Homo sapiens: one gene and its partner. The protein of the gene in region 1 interacts with the protein of each later gene in a biochemical or structural test. Each region holds a gene or a part of one and is shown on either strand. Other genes may lie near its edges.

Evidence for each region. The genes of interacting proteins can lie anywhere in the genome.
Region 2: the proteins of TOX4 (region 1) and TRIM65 form a complex in vitro, tested with the Homo sapiens proteins (one study listed by BioGRID).

What each region holds. Positions count from the first base shown.
Region 1 is NC_000014.9:21,487,191-21,494,207, reverse strand, and holds part of TOX4 (TOX high mobility group box family member 4), read right to left. Parts: intron 6,758-7,017; coding exon 6,515-6,757; intron 5,619-6,514; coding exon 5,358-5,618; intron 5,036-5,357; coding exon 4,805-5,035; intron 1,913-4,804; coding exon 1,832-1,912; intron 1,701-1,831; coding exon 951-1,700; intron 1-950. UniProt on the Homo sapiens protein: Transcription factor that modulates cell fate reprogramming from the somatic state to the pluripotent and neuronal fate. In liver, controls the expression of hormone-regulated gluconeogenic genes such as G6PC1 and PCK1.
Region 2 is NC_000017.11:75,893,935-75,901,682, forward strand, and holds the start of TRIM65 (E3 ubiquitin-protein ligase TRIM65), read right to left. Parts: upstream 3,018-7,748; 5' UTR 3,004-3,017; coding exon 2,590-3,003; intron 1-2,589. Other genes in the region: MRPL38 (large ribosomal subunit protein mL38 precursor), read right to left, coding at 4,916-5,052, 5,224-5,360, 5,582-5,740, 7,048-7,093, 7,267-7,339. UniProt on the Homo sapiens protein: E3 ubiquitin ligase that plays a role in several processes including innate immnity, autophagy or inflammation.

The sequences.
Region 1 (7,017 bases):
TGAAAAGCTTTGCATGTCCAAAGTTTAGGATCCTTGGGTAACAACTCTGAATAATAACTGTTTAGGCTATATCCTGTCCAGTTGAACTAGTGACCTCTGCTTAGTTAAGGAGTGGTCTGGGGCAGAAGACTGTCTTAATGTATCTCACTAAAAACACTATGGGGCACACGGTGGCTCACGCCTGTAATCCCTGCACTCTGGGAGGCCGAAGCGGGCGAATCACGAGGTCAGGAGTTCAAGACCAGCCCAATGAACATGGTGAAACTCTGTCTCTAATAAAAATACAAAAAATTAGCTGGGTGTAGTGGTGGGCGCCTGTAATCCCAGCTACTCGGGAGGCTGAGGCAGGAGAATCACTTGAACTAGGAGGTGGAGATTGCAGTGAGCCAAGATTACACCACTGCACTCCAGCCCAGGCAACAGAGCGAGACTCCGTCTCAAGAAAAACAAAACAAAACAAAACAAAACAGGGCGGGTGCAGTGGCTCACACCTGTAATCCCAGCACTTTGGGAGGCCGAGGCAGGCAGATCACCTGAGATCAGGAGTTCGAGACCAGCCTGACCAACATGGAGAAACCGTCTCTACTAAAAATACAAAATTAGCCGGACATGGTGGCACATGCCTGTAATCCCAGCCACTCGGGAGGCTGAGGCAGGAGAATCTCTTGAACCCAGGAGGTAGAGGTTGCAGTGAGCCGAGATCGCACCATTGCACTCCAGCCTGGGCAATGAGTGAAACTCCATCTCAAAAACAAACAAACAAAAAAAAAACAGTATGAGTACCTTGGGTAAGAGAAGTCAACTGCTGCAAGGAACTCCCATCTGCAGGATGTTTTGTGCTCCTGGTTGCTGGGCATTAAATGCTAGTAGCAACCCCCACTGTTATTGGGTCAACCAAAAACATTTTTATACATTTCCACTAGACTAAAGACTTAAAAACAAAGGCTCACCTCAGGAACTACATCTGTGATCATCTCACAGATAGTCTCAGGAGAAGGTGCCTCCACTGTATGGGCCTCAGGGCTGTTGTTCATAGGCCGCTCAGGACTACTTTCCACAGTTGGTGGGACTAAGGTAGTCTGCATTTTCAAAGTGGGTAGAGGCACACTCTTGATCTGCAGAGGAGGAGGCTGTTGCTGTAAATTGATTCGAACTTTCTGAGGTGGAGGCTGTTGCATGGCCTGGAGTGGAGGAGGCTGCTGCAGAATGGTAACTTGCTGCTGAGTCGGGGGCTGTGGCATCTGTTGTAATGGAGGGGGCTGTAGTCGGGGTGGAGGCAGTTGCATAGAAGCAGCAGCAGCAGCAGCTGCTGCTGCCTGCAACACTGACCGAGTGACAATCTGGGCTTGTTGACTGGGCTGGATAGTAGCTGTACTGGTTTGGCCTAGTTGGAGCCCCCGGGAGGTCACCACTGTGGCTGGGATAACAGTAACCATCCCTCCTTGAGACATAGTAATAGAAGAGGGCAACATTTGTTTGGTAATAATCAACTTGGTGATATTGGGCTGACCCCCAGCTCCAGAAGATGCCTGGTTTGCCACATAGGATGAAAGGGTGGAGTTAACAACAATGGATGGGGACAGGGCAGGGGGCTCTATTGAAGCTGGTGCTGGAGATGCTGGGTCAACAGTAGCCATAGGAGGTGGAGAAGGAGTTTGTGATGGTGGTGCTGGATCCAATTCCACTGTTTCCACAGTGGCCTAAAAGAAGACATAAATCAATCTATCAATTAATCAATCACTTGGTGGTATTTACTTCTTAAAACTGCTAACAAACACTTCCAAAAAACTTCTTACTGGTTTAAATATTCATTCTATCCTATCCCTCTTACCTGACACTCCTGGTTGTCTTTGTAAGCAGCCAGTGCCTTCAGATACTCTTTCTTGGCAGCCTCAGTTTTCCTCTTATATACCTGCAAAAAAGAGACTTTAAAAAAAAAAACAAAACTCCCCATACTCTTAGGAAAGACTGATAGTTCTGTATTATTTATCAATGAATGACAATTCATCTTAGTCTAATCACTGACAACCTCTATCAGTGAATTCAATTCTGAAAGCTAACAGTCAAGACAACCTCCATGGCAGACTCACTCCACTGAGCATACCTCTGAAAGACAACCAATCGACAGGAGTCTGGCAAGAATAGCTACATTTATTTTATTTTGCTACATTTATTTTATTTTTTTTAAATTTTTTTTGAGACAGAGTCGTGCTCTCTCGCCCAGGCTCGAGTGCAGTGGCGTGATCTTGGCTCATTGCAAGCTCTGCCTCCCAGGTTCATGCCATTCTCCTGCTTCAGCCTCCTGAGTAGCTGGGACTATAGGCACCCGCCACCACGCCCGGCTAATTTTTTGTATTTTTAGTAGAGATGGGGTTTCGCTGTGTTAGCCAGGATGGTCTCGATCTCCTGACCTTGTGATCCGCCTGCCTCTGCCTCCCAAAGTGCTGGGATTACAGGCGTGAGCCACCACGCCTGGCCGAGAATAGCTACATTTAAGGCAAACATCAACCCATGCTCACTTCTGTAACAAAAATAAACCCTAATCTGCCAGGTGCGGTGGCTCACGCCTGTAATCCCAGCACTTTGGGAGGCCAAGGTGGCCAGATCACGAGGTCAGGAGATTGAGACCATCCTGGCTAACCTGGTGAAACCCGATCTCTACTAAAAAAAACAAAAACAAAACTAGCCCGGCGTGGTGATGGGCGCCTATAGTCCAGCTACTCAGGAGGCTGAGGCAGGAGAATGGCGTGAACCTGGGAGATAGAGCTTGCAGTCAACCAAGATTGTGCTACTGCACTCCAGCCTGGGCGACACAGTGAGACTCTGTCTCAAAAAAATAAATAAATAAATACAAAATAAACCCTAATCCAAAAACTGTGTCTTAGCCTGGGACTGTGTCTAACCAGTATATTTTCCCTTATGGAATGTGGTAAATTGTTTGCAAAGATGGCCACAACAACTCCTCCCATATGACCTTTCTCCCTTCAAGAGCTGAAGCCTATTTCCCCCTCCTTTGAATCTGGGCTAGCTCTAAAAAGTTTTTAAACTCTAAATCCAAAAAAGAAAAAGAAAGAAAAAAAATAGGCCAGGTGCGGTGGCTCACACCTGTAATCCCAGCACGTTGGGAGGACAAGGCAGGCGGATCACCTGAGGTCAGGAGTTTGGCACCAGCCTGACCAACACGGTGAAACCCTGTCTCTACTAAAAATACAACATTAGCTGGGTGTGGCGGCACATGCCGGTAATCCCAGCTACTTGGGAGGCTGAGGCAGGAGAATCACTTGAACCCAGGAGGTGGAAGTTGCAGTAAGCTGAGATTGCACCACTGCACTGCAGCCTGGGTAACAGGAGCGAAATTCCATCTCAAAAACAAACAAACAAGTAATTCTAAATCCAAACTTGGTAGTGGATTTGAGAGTTAGCCACAGCATGCAGCTTATCAAGTAATAGCCTAATTTTATAAATGGGGGAAAAAATGAGACTTAGAAAAGTTAAATATCTAAAAATTGAACAGAAGGACACTACATGAGGAATTATAGGAGACATTATTAGTGGAAAGTACATGGGAAGAGTTAAAGAACCTGGATTGTGTCTCAACTTTACCACTTAAATGTTATATGACCTTAACTGGGCAGTGGGCTCCAGTTTCCACCTTAAAAGCGGGAAATGGTAGCTATTTTTGAGAGTTATTGTAAAGATGCAGTACTTCTGTAACAATTATTATTATTTTTTGAGATGGAGTTTCACTCTTGTTGCCCAGGCTGGAGTGCAATGGCATGATCTCGGCTCACCGCAACCTCTGCCTCCCGGGTTCAAGCAATTCTCCTGCCTCAGCCGCCTGAGTAGCTGGGATTTGAGGCATGCCACCACACCCGGCTAATTTTTTTGTATTTTTAGTAGAGTCGGGGTTTCAATGTCAGCCAGGATGGTGTTGATCTCCTGACTTCGTAATCCGCCTGCCTCGGCTTCCCAAAGTGCTGGGATTAACAGGCGTGAGCCACCGCGCCCGGCCTATAACAATTATTATTTATTTATTTGAGCCGGGGTCTTGCTCTGTCACCCAGGCTGGAGTGCAGTGACACAAACATGGCTCACTGCAGCCTTTATATCCTGAACTCAAGCAATCCTCCCGCCTCAGCCTCCACAGCTGGGACCAAAGGCACATGCCACCACACCCAGCTAATTTTCTGTGAGACGGGGGTCTCCCTATGTTGCCCAGGATGGTCTCGAACTCATGGGCTCAAGCAATCCTCCTGCCCTGGCCTCCCAAAGTGCTGGGATTAAAAGCATGAGCCACCACACTCAGCCTATTAATAATTTTTAAATAGGCCGGGCGCAGTGGCTCATGCCTGTAATCCCAGCACTTTGGGAGGCCGAGGCGGGTGGATCACGAGGTCAGGAGATCGAGACCATCCTGGCTGACATGGTGAAACGCCGTCTCTACTAAAAATACAAAAACAAAATTAGCCCAGTGTGGTGGAAGCGCCTGCAGTCCCAGCTACTCGGGAGGCTGAAGCAGGAGAATGGCGTGAACCCAGGAGGCGGAGCTTGCAGTGAGCTGAGATCACGGCACTGCACTCCAGCCTGGGTGACAGAGCGAGACTCTGTCTCAAAAAAAAAAAATTTAAATAGGTTTTCTGGAGTGAGTGTATGGCTGCAACTTCGAAGACAAGGGATGATATTTAAGTGTCATTAACAAACAGCTGATATTAGATAAGGACATGTAAGAAAAAAGAAAACCTCAATTTTTATCTCTTTAAAAACTTCTGGAACATTCACTACTAGTTCCTCAATATTTGCTCACCTGTTTTTGCTCCTCTCCAAGACTATCCCACATGGAGGCCACAATTTTTGAAACCTCACCAAAAGTGGCATTAGGATTCTGTCCCTTGATGGCAGCCTGTGTATCACGAAAGAATAAAGCATATGCTGAAACTGGTTTCTGAGGTTCATTAGGATCTTTCTTTTTTCTCTTCTTTGGGGCCTTCTGCTTTTTCCCTGCTTCCACCACGACTGTCTTCTGGCTGGGAAGTTGCTGTAGGAGAGAAAAAAGAGAGAATTACACAATGGACAATGACAAGTATTATGTCTGGAAACTAGCCACATGTATGGAATTTTCAGAAATGCTAAAAATCATAGAAATAGCATTAAAAGACATTAGTCAAATATGGAGAACCAATAAGAATAGGGATTGAGAGGAGAATTATAAACTGGAAATTGGGAGGTGGAACCCCATACCCAGAAAACAGCAGAGGAGATGGCACGGCAAGGGTAAAGAATACTGATTAGGCTCTGTATCCCAAAAATTTTATCCCAGACTATCACAGCAGAATTGATTTTGACAGGGAATGCCTCACCCTCCGGAAATCCTCAACACCATCCTCGTGAAGTGAACTAGTAGGTGAAGGGGTGGTTGAAAGACGATCTTCAGGTGACTGGGCAGGTGGCAGGATGGTGCCACCCCCTAGGCTCAAACCCAGCTGGGAACTCAGTTCTGACTGATCAATGGTGGTCAACTGGCTATGCCCCATCAAGCCAGATGTCATGTCTGTCATTGGTACATCAATTGTAACAGGTGGGTTGGCACTATACTGAGTTCCTATAGAGTGGTCCAAGTCCTGAGAGAAGCAGAAGGACTAATTAAACACTAAATATAAAAAAAACCACTTTTCCCCCCTAAATTTAAGACAGCTTATAAATTCCCTGCCTACCCAAATTGTATCATTTAAAATACAAAACATAAAATAGTCTTCAAAAATGAAAATAAAAAAATAAGCTTTTTAAAAAAGTACAGAAATTAATGAATTTACTTCTTTGCACTCAAAAGAAGAACTAAAAATAATCAGAGAAGTCGCACTGTTGGACAAGTCAAAGAGCTATCAACTTATTCAGTAATATATAGGTAGTGACAACACATTGAGTAAAGAAAAACTTCCTATCTGTACTCTCCCAAAATAATAGCTTTTAAAATTGTAATACATAGGCAATCAGCATAAATAAGGCCAATATTAAAGTCTGGCATCAAATATAGAGTATGAAGATGTGCTTACTGGTTCGATGTGCTGGAAGCCCAATATACTGATTTATATTACATACTAATCCACAATACTATATTTGGCTCAGACTTTTTTTTTTTTTTTAAGCTCTGTTCTGCTGGCTGCTCAACGTGATTCAGGCCATTTTTGAATAAATCCCTCCGTGTGCCAGCTATCACATTCAAATTTGAATCCTAGGATGTGAAGGCCATAATAAAAGCAGAAAACACTTTTTCCCAAAAACCACAATAAATAATTTTCAAACCAGACATTGTACAATTTTAAATTATTTTTCAAGTAAAATCTACCTACATGGTAAATTTCATTTATTCAGGTGAAATTAAGTCTTTGTTGGTGAGCCTTTAGCCACAAGAAGAGAAACAAGTAATACCCAAGTGTAGCAGGGAATAGAGTAACTTTGTCTCCCCTAATGCCATGCCCATTAGCTGGGGTAAGCCTGACAATGTCTTGCCCCTTACCATGGTCAAGCCCCCACTCAGGAGCCCCCCGCCCTGCTCCATCAAGCCATGGGTCATGCCCACAGGCATGTCCAATGTCTGGACCCCATACTGGGCTGAAAAACTGCCATCCTGTGAAGAGGAAGGGTCTGCCAGGTCATCAAAGTGGCCAACCACATCTGAGACAGCCAATGAGGGATCAGAATCCAAGGAGATAGGTGGGATTTCAAATTCCTCATCACCCAAGCTTGGTGTATGGAATGTCTGTAGGGGAAAAAAGGGGGAAAAGAATTAGTGAAAAGAGGAGAAATGGCATACTACTAAGTGAAGAACATAATGGGGTACTAGAGATTCTCAGGATGCATTTTTTCTGCTTAGGATCCTATTTTATAATCAATTTCTTAGAACCTATTATTTTTACCAATCTCTCTTCTGATACCCTTGGTCATTTGGTACATTCAAGGCTGCTAACATCAGTCACAATTTTCAATTCTTTTATCTCTTTTCTACCATTACCGTCTCTT
Region 2 (7,748 bases), on another chromosome or scaffold:
ACCCGCCCATGAGCAGTACATCTCGTCTCATCCTCCTCGGCGGCTTCAGCAGCTACAAGGAATGTCCCGCAACACTCTGGAGCCCTTTTCCTTCACCTCATCTCAGCCGCTCCTGTGAACTCACCCTGGCCCTGTCACCAGCTCTAAAATCTCCATTCTAGGCATCGATTCTTCCTTCTCTGACCACTGCCTTCGTGCCCTCTCCTGTTCCAGCCACCTCTGTCTCAGTCCTCCCACCTCACCGACCCCCAGCCGTGCACTCTCCCATCCCTCCCTGCCCATCAGGCCTCCTGGCCACCCCTTCCCTTCCTGTCCCATCCAGCGTCCCTGCGCCATCCTCCATCCACGCCTTAGCCCCAGGCCTCCTCTGTCCCCGAATGATTCCACATCCTGTCTTCGCTGCTGAAATGGGTTTTGTCAAGGGCACGGACCACCTCCACAGTACCGATGCTGAAGGTCATTTCTGTCCTCGTACTGAGCCTCTGATCAGCATGGGCATCCTGCCCGTTCTCTTCCTGGCACCCCTGTCTCCAGGTGCCACACAGGGCTGCCATTCCCCCGACCTTCCCCATCTCCCTGGGAGCTCCAGCTTGGAACCTTCTCTTCCTCCTAGCGCTAATGATTCCCAGCTCTCGACTTCCAGCTCCCCGCTCCTGAGCTTTGGAGCTCACAGCAAGCTCCGCCTCCCGGGTTCACGCCATTCTCCAGCCTCAGCCACCAGAGGAGCTGGGACTACAGGCGCCCGCCACCAGGCCTGGCTAATTTTTTGTATTTTTAGTAGAGACAGGGTTTCACCATGTTAGCCAGGATGGTCTCAATCTCCTGACCTCGTGATCCACCGGCCTCCGCCTCCCAAAGTGCTGGGATTACAGGCGTGAGCCACTGCACCCGGTGGTGGCCAGGCTGCGGGGGGTCCGGCCCCCTCCTGCTCCTGGCGGCAGCACCCACTTGAGGAGGTGACCCTCACTCATGGTGCACAAGCTGCAAACACAACAGCCCTTGGTCTGGCAGAAGAGCTCCAGCAGCTGCCCGGGGCGGGGTCAGCGCGCGGCAGGGCTGGGGCCAGGGTCCCAGGTGCCACAGGCCCGTCCCCTGGTTTGTCCCACTGGCCACTGTGACCTCTATATGTCCAAGGCCAAACTCTGCCCTCCACCTACGCCTCTCAGGACATAGCACCCCAGCCACCTGCGTGCTCAAGACAGAAACCCAGGTGTCTCCCTTGCCGCCCTCTCTGCTGTCCCCCGTGTCCCCTCTGGCCTGCTTTCGCCTCCACAAGGTACCACTTCCCCTCAGCGTTTCTCATCTCCTCCTCCATCTTGGTCTCCCTTCCCTGATCCCCAGCTGGTTCTTTGCCTCCCTGCACTCCTACCCGATTCGGGTCTTACATCCTGCCCCCTTCAGCCCCCAGCCAGGTGATCAGTCTCCATGAAGCCCAAATCTGATCATGTGCCAACCTGCTTCCAAGCCTATAATGGCCCCCATGACCCTACAGTAAGAGCCAGACTCCCCCAGGACCCTGCCCGATCCTGCCCCTGCTGACCCCCAGGGCCTGGCCCACAGATCTCAGTGGCACAAATCTGCCACTAGGGACCCCGCGTGCCCAGTTCTTTCCCATCCCAGAGACGGGACCAGGCTGATTCCTCTGCCTAGAATGCTCTTCCCCAGGTCTTTCTCCTGGCTTGCGCTTCCTCAATCCTCACATGCCAGCCTGAAGGCGGCCTCCCCTTCCTCCTCCTGGCCCGTTTAGCAGGGTCACCCCAACCCCTCTATCACATGCCATGTGCTTTCCTCACTGCATTTTGTAATAATACATTCACGCCTTACTGGAACACTGACTTCTTAAGTGGATTCTAAGTCTCTTAAGGGCAGGGAGCTCGTCTGATCCATTTACCAACAGCCCCCATAGCCCCCTCGCCCTCCACAACCCCGCACAGCGAATGAAAGGAGGCTCTCGGAGCGCAGGAGACACACGACGGTTCTCTAGCGCTTGGGCACGGAGCAGGGAGCTGCTGCCTCACGCCCAGGCTTTGTTCATCCAGAGGGCACCGAGCAGCTTCTGAGACCCACCCTGTGTCACTGGCCGGGCTGCATATCCCAGTCTGATGCACAGACCCACGATTTTTTGTTTGTTTATTTTCTGAGACGGAGTCTCGCTCTGTCGCCCAGACTGGAGTGCAGTGGCACGATCTCGGCTTACTGCAAGCTCCACTTCCCGGGTTCACGCCATTCTCCTGCCTCAGCCTCCCGAGTAGATGGGACTACAGGCGCCCGCCACCACGCCCGGCTAACTTTTTGTATTTTTAGTAGAGACCGGGTTTCACCGTGTTAGCCAGGATGGTCTCGATCTCCTGACCTCGTGATCCGCCCGCCTCGGCCTCCCAAAGTGCTGGGATTACAGTCGTGAGCCACTGCGCCTGGCAGACCCACGACTTTTATAATCAGCTCCCAGGTTGGGAGAAGCCCCTTACAGATGAGGCTCCCCGCCCCCGCCGGGTGCCCGAGAGAGCAGGGCGCGGCCCGCAGGAGTCACCCGGCGGTGGCCAGGCTGCGGCGGGTCCGGACCCCTCCCGCTCCCGGCGGATGCGTCACCTCGCGCTTGAGGCGCTCGGCATCCAGCAGCGCCCGCTCGTGGAGGCGACACTCGCGCACGGTGCACACGCTGCACACACAGCGGCCCTCGGTCCGGCAGAAGAGCTCCAGCGGCCGCCCGTGGCGGGGGCAGCGCGCGGCAGGGTCGGGGCCGGGGCCGGGATCGGGGCCGGGATCCCGGGCGGGCCCGGCGCGCACCACCTCCAGCACGCCGCTGAGGGCCACGTTGCGGCGCAGCTCGGCGCCGTCGGGAAAGGGCTCCCGGCACTCGGGGCACGCCTTTCCGCAGCGGTCCCACCAGTCCCGGATGCAGGCCCCGCAGAAGTTGTGGCCGCAGGGCAGCGTCACTGGGTCCTGGTAGAGCCCCAGGCAGATGGCGCAGGTCAGCTTCTCCTCCAGCAGCTGCGCGGCCATGGCCCGGCGGCGGCGAGAGCCAGGCGGGCCCCGGGCGTCTTAAAGGGACCGCGGGCCTCGCGCGCTGAGGGCGCCTGGGCGTGGCTAACGCGGGGCGGGGCGAGATCCGGGCGGGGCGGGGCGAGATCCGCGCCCGGGAAGGCGGAGGGGGGCGGCAGGCCCTTCTCTGACACCCTCGACGAGCGACCGCCGCAGGGGCCTAGGCCACCCCTGCCCACCTCGGCCTGGCCCGCTCGAAGGTTCCGCGTTCCCGCCTTGCGCCCCTCCCTCCGTTAGGGTCCACGCCACCCCGGCTGAGAGCTGAGTTCGGCTCTCTAGGGTCCCAGCCTGGCGGGTCCATCCCACCCCCCTGGGCCTTCAGCCCAGGTCCTGGAGACCAGAGGCTCGAAAACCCCGCCAGGACTCCGGGCTTCTGACCACGGGCCGCGCGGAACCTCTTCTGGACTCATCTGCCAGTCGCCTAACAGCATAGACCCCCACCCCCAACAATCCCCCGGGGCTTGGCGATGAAACGGGCTGGCGGGCTCCCTGCAGACCCGAGCACTGCTGCACTTTTTCCTGGAGCTGGGTTTCGGACACTTGCCAGACTGGGGTGTCTCCCTTCTCTGGGCTACACGTAATTTTGGTTCTTTTAAAGTAAACAGCGAGATGGAAATGTCTGGTCACCAAGAGACAGGGACCAGTTAACTGGTATTTTTCAAATGGCCCTGAATGAATACACAAACCAGCTTTCATCTGCAATCAGCATCCCCTCTTCCTGCTGCCCTCCGCTGGGGAGAGTTCCTTGCCTGGGGTCCAAGCTGATCTGCAGCCTCAGTATTTACAGGCACTCCAGCATTTCCCCTGAAGCTGAGCAGGCAAGGCGGGTCTGGGGCCTAGCGCCCACCTACCTGACAGTGTGTATCAGGCCAGGGGGAACCCCAGGAGAGTACGGCCTTTCTAACCAAGCTGGGCTGATGTTGAGGCGGCACGAGCTCTCACTGCTGCAGCAAGCACTGCGTCCTCTGTGCGGCCATAGACGAAGTTTCTTTCTGGACAAAGTGCACGGATCTACCCTCCACCTACTAGTTAGCCAGACTTCTGCTTTTGGTAAGGGAGAAACAAAACACCTAACCATCCAGCCGCAAGACTCCATGGGTTTTCTGACCCTGAGCAGGTCTCTTGAGACACGCTGTTGCCTACCTAATGTGGCTTCTCCTCCCAAGCATGGGGTGGGGGCTGGAGCCTGTGCAGAGGGTCAGTGCTCGGGCAGGCACTCTCTCTCCAGGGGCCGGTGGGACCCCCCTGAGGCACAGAGCCAGTGCTCAATAAATGCTCCTTCCTGAGCCCAGCTGCTCTGCTCCACTTTTTCGGGGAGCTGGGTTTCAGGAACCTGCTGGATTGGGATGTCTCCCTTCCCTGGGCCACACCTGTTTTTGGCCCACTGCCTGCTTTTGCTTCGGATCCCAGGGCCCCTGACACCCTCAGAAGACGGAGGTGAGGACGCACTTAGTGGGGTGGGAGGCAGCCCGTTTCCCACCCATGAAGCTCCATCGGGGTCCTCTGGCCCTGGAGCACCGACCCAGGCCAGCTATGGCAGAAATCCCTTTTTTTAAAAAATACAGGCAGGGTCTCATTATATTGCCAGCTGGTCTTGAACTCCTGGGCTCAAGCGACCCTCCCTTCTCAGCCTCCCAGTGTTGGAATTACAGGTGTGAGCCACCAAGCCCGGCAAGAAATCATGTTTATTCACATTCCCCACCCCACCACCTGAGAGTCACTTTCACTCCAAGCCCTGGGCCTGACGGGAGGGGGCCAAAGAGGGGGGCTGCCTAAGGCAGGGCCCAGACCCCACAGTGTGGGCCTCTGGAGCTGTGTCTTTACTCTTGCTGCCGATCAATCCCATGCTCTGAAATGCGCACACTCTGGCTCCTTAGTAGATGCCATAGGTGGGCTCATGACTGTCCCTGTACCGGTCCAGGTAGCGCAGGGGCTGCCGGTGGGGGAAGCGCTTCTGCTTGGGGTGGTAAGGGGGCGGCCGCACGAACTCAAACACCGGCTCCCGCATGTCTGCAAGAAGAGTGAGGGGTACGGGGTGGTCTGCTGGCCTGCGCCCCCTCAGGCTGAGGCCTGCCCACCAGGGACCTGCCGCAGCCTTCCCCTAACAAAGCTTCTCCCTGGCAGGGCAGGCGAGGCCTGGGAGCTCAGGCCCACCCAGTGCCCCAGCCCCATGGCCCTTACCCAGAAGCTGGTGGAAGATGTAGGTGACGGAGTCATCCCAGCGGCACTGGAAGAAGGACAAGCCGGCTGGAGTCATGGTTTCTTGGTGTTTCTTGTAGAAATCAAAAGTGCGGAAGGTCCGCTGGGCCAGCTGATAGCTATGAGAAGATAGAGAGCGTATGAGAGTGTGGAGTGGGGCACCAGAGCCCCTCACCCCGCCACCCCAACAGGTAACCCTGAGAGGCCCCTGGGAGTCTGCTAGCACCCTATCCTGCTCTTCTGCCAGTCTCAAGGCTGAGGTCAAGAGAGAACTGAGCAAGAGTGACCGTTCCAGGGGAGCTGGCCTGAGGCCGGGTTATGTGTGGGTGGTGTAGATTACCAGGGTGAGGGGCGTGCGTCCTCAGAGAAGTCAATCGGCTGGTCCTGCTTGAAGAGCAGGAAGGCAAGACGGTGGATGCCGGAGCCTCGGGCAGGGAAGGGGGGGAGGTAGGGACACGTCACCTGTCCTTCAGCCACCCGGTTACCCGGGATGTTGGTTCTGGGAGGAGGAAAGTCCCGGTTAATTACCACTCCAGGGAGGCAGCAGGAGTGTCCCCTCAGCTCCATGCACACCCTAGAGGCTGACATGACTCCCTGGGAGGACAGCTCTAAGCATCTCTCTCCTGGGACAGAGGAGGCAGCCAAGCTCTGTGAACGCCGGGACATGCTGCAAATACGGGAAGCGGGCTGGAGGAGCTCCGAGTGGGGGACAGGGCTCCAGAGAGCATCAGCTTGACAGCAAGGCCATGCAGCCGCTTCCAGGCCCCGGGAGCCGGTGGGTCCGCCACAGTCACTGAGGCTAGAAAGCCAGGCCACTTTTGGCTGCTTTTCCCTCTGCGTCCTGAAGTCTCCAGGACCTCGTCAGGGAGTGTGTGCCCAGCCTGGCACAGGGGCGGCCAACGCCTCAGGCACAAATCCCCAGAGGGTCCTGCCGCATAGGCTGGTAACAGTTGAATAAAAATGACGGAAACCAGCCTCCCAGTCACTGTCCCCAGTTAACCAGAAGGCTCAAAGTTGGGGTCACTGGCCTGACCTCTGCCCCCTGGCCTGGTGTTCAGAGCCAAAAGCTACCAAGATGGAAGGCCGCCCAGTCTGGGCCCAGGGAAGGAGCGCCCAGTGGTTCAAGGAGCACCTGGGGGACGCCACAGCTGCTAGGCCTCTCCCGCTCCTTCTCCCACGTGACTGTCACAGTCCACCTCACGCTGAGTAAGGCATGTGGTGCCATTATCCCAGTTTTACAGGTGAAGAAATGAGTTTAGAGACGAAGGGCCCAGGCATGGTGGCTCACGCTTATAATCCTAGCACTTTGGGAGGCGGAGGCGGGCAGATCGCTTGAGCTCAGGAGACCAGCCTGGGCAACATGGTGAAACCCTGTCTCTATAAAAAAATACAAAAATTAGCTGGGTGTAGTGGTTTGCACCTGTAGTCCCAGCTACTCAGGAGACTGAGGTGGGAAGAGCACCTGAGCCCAGGAGTTAGCGGCTGCAATTAGCCATGATTGCACCACTGTACTCCAGCCTGGGGGACAGAGTGAGACCCTGTCTCAAAAAAAAAAAAAAAAAAGAAAAGAAAAGATGAGGAGGCTTGTGGGGACTGACCGAGGCCTACTGCAAACTTTGTCTCCTGTAGCTGTCTTCAAGTAGACACGTGGATCCCAGGGCCCCTAACACCCTCAGGAGGCAGAGGTGGCAGGTGAATTCAAGGTCCCATGGGTAGTCCATGAAACTCAGGAGCAGCTCAGTCCAGGCTCCCAGCTCCTCTTCCCGCCTGGGCAGCACCCCCTACCCCCAGTACTCCAGTACTCACAGCAGCCAGTGGAGGTACTCAGCATCTGGCTCCAGCAGGTGCCCATCTGCACAAAAACACACCTGCTGACCACGGCCCAGCCGACCACGGCCCTGCCACCCCCTCCCTTGTTAGGAGCCAGCGCTGGAGATCTCCACCTGGCCCCTCCCCCAGCCCCCCAGGGCCCTGGCTCATAGGAGGTGAGCGGGGCAGGAGGCCTGGTGAGCCCCAGACACCCACCCAAGCTAGTGAGTAGCAACGTCCACAAGGAGCCCTCTTCTGCCTCATAGGTCACCTCTGGCGCTTGGGCAGCCTGGCAGGGTGAGAAGGAAGCTGTCAGCCCCACCAGGGACAGGCCAGCTGTTGCAGGGAGCCTTGGAGAAAGGGGTGCCCACTCTGACCCAAAAGCCCTTGACAACCCCTGGCACAGGCAGGCAGGCAAAGGGATGCGTAGAGAAGCAGCCCTGCAGAGTTGCCTGTCCAGGCAACAACCACAAAAACGAACATGTGCCAAGGCCGGGCCAGGAGGGCACACCACAGACAGCAGGCTGGTCACAGGAATGTGCTAAGACAGAGCCTCTTTTTCCTTCATTTTGTTCTATTTTCTTTGAAATTGTCATGGTGTCGTCTTCCAGGAAATCAAAGAGACAGAGAACAACAAAATTCCAAACCCAGGAGTGTCTGTGACACTGAGATGGGATGTGTCTGTGTTTGCACAGGGC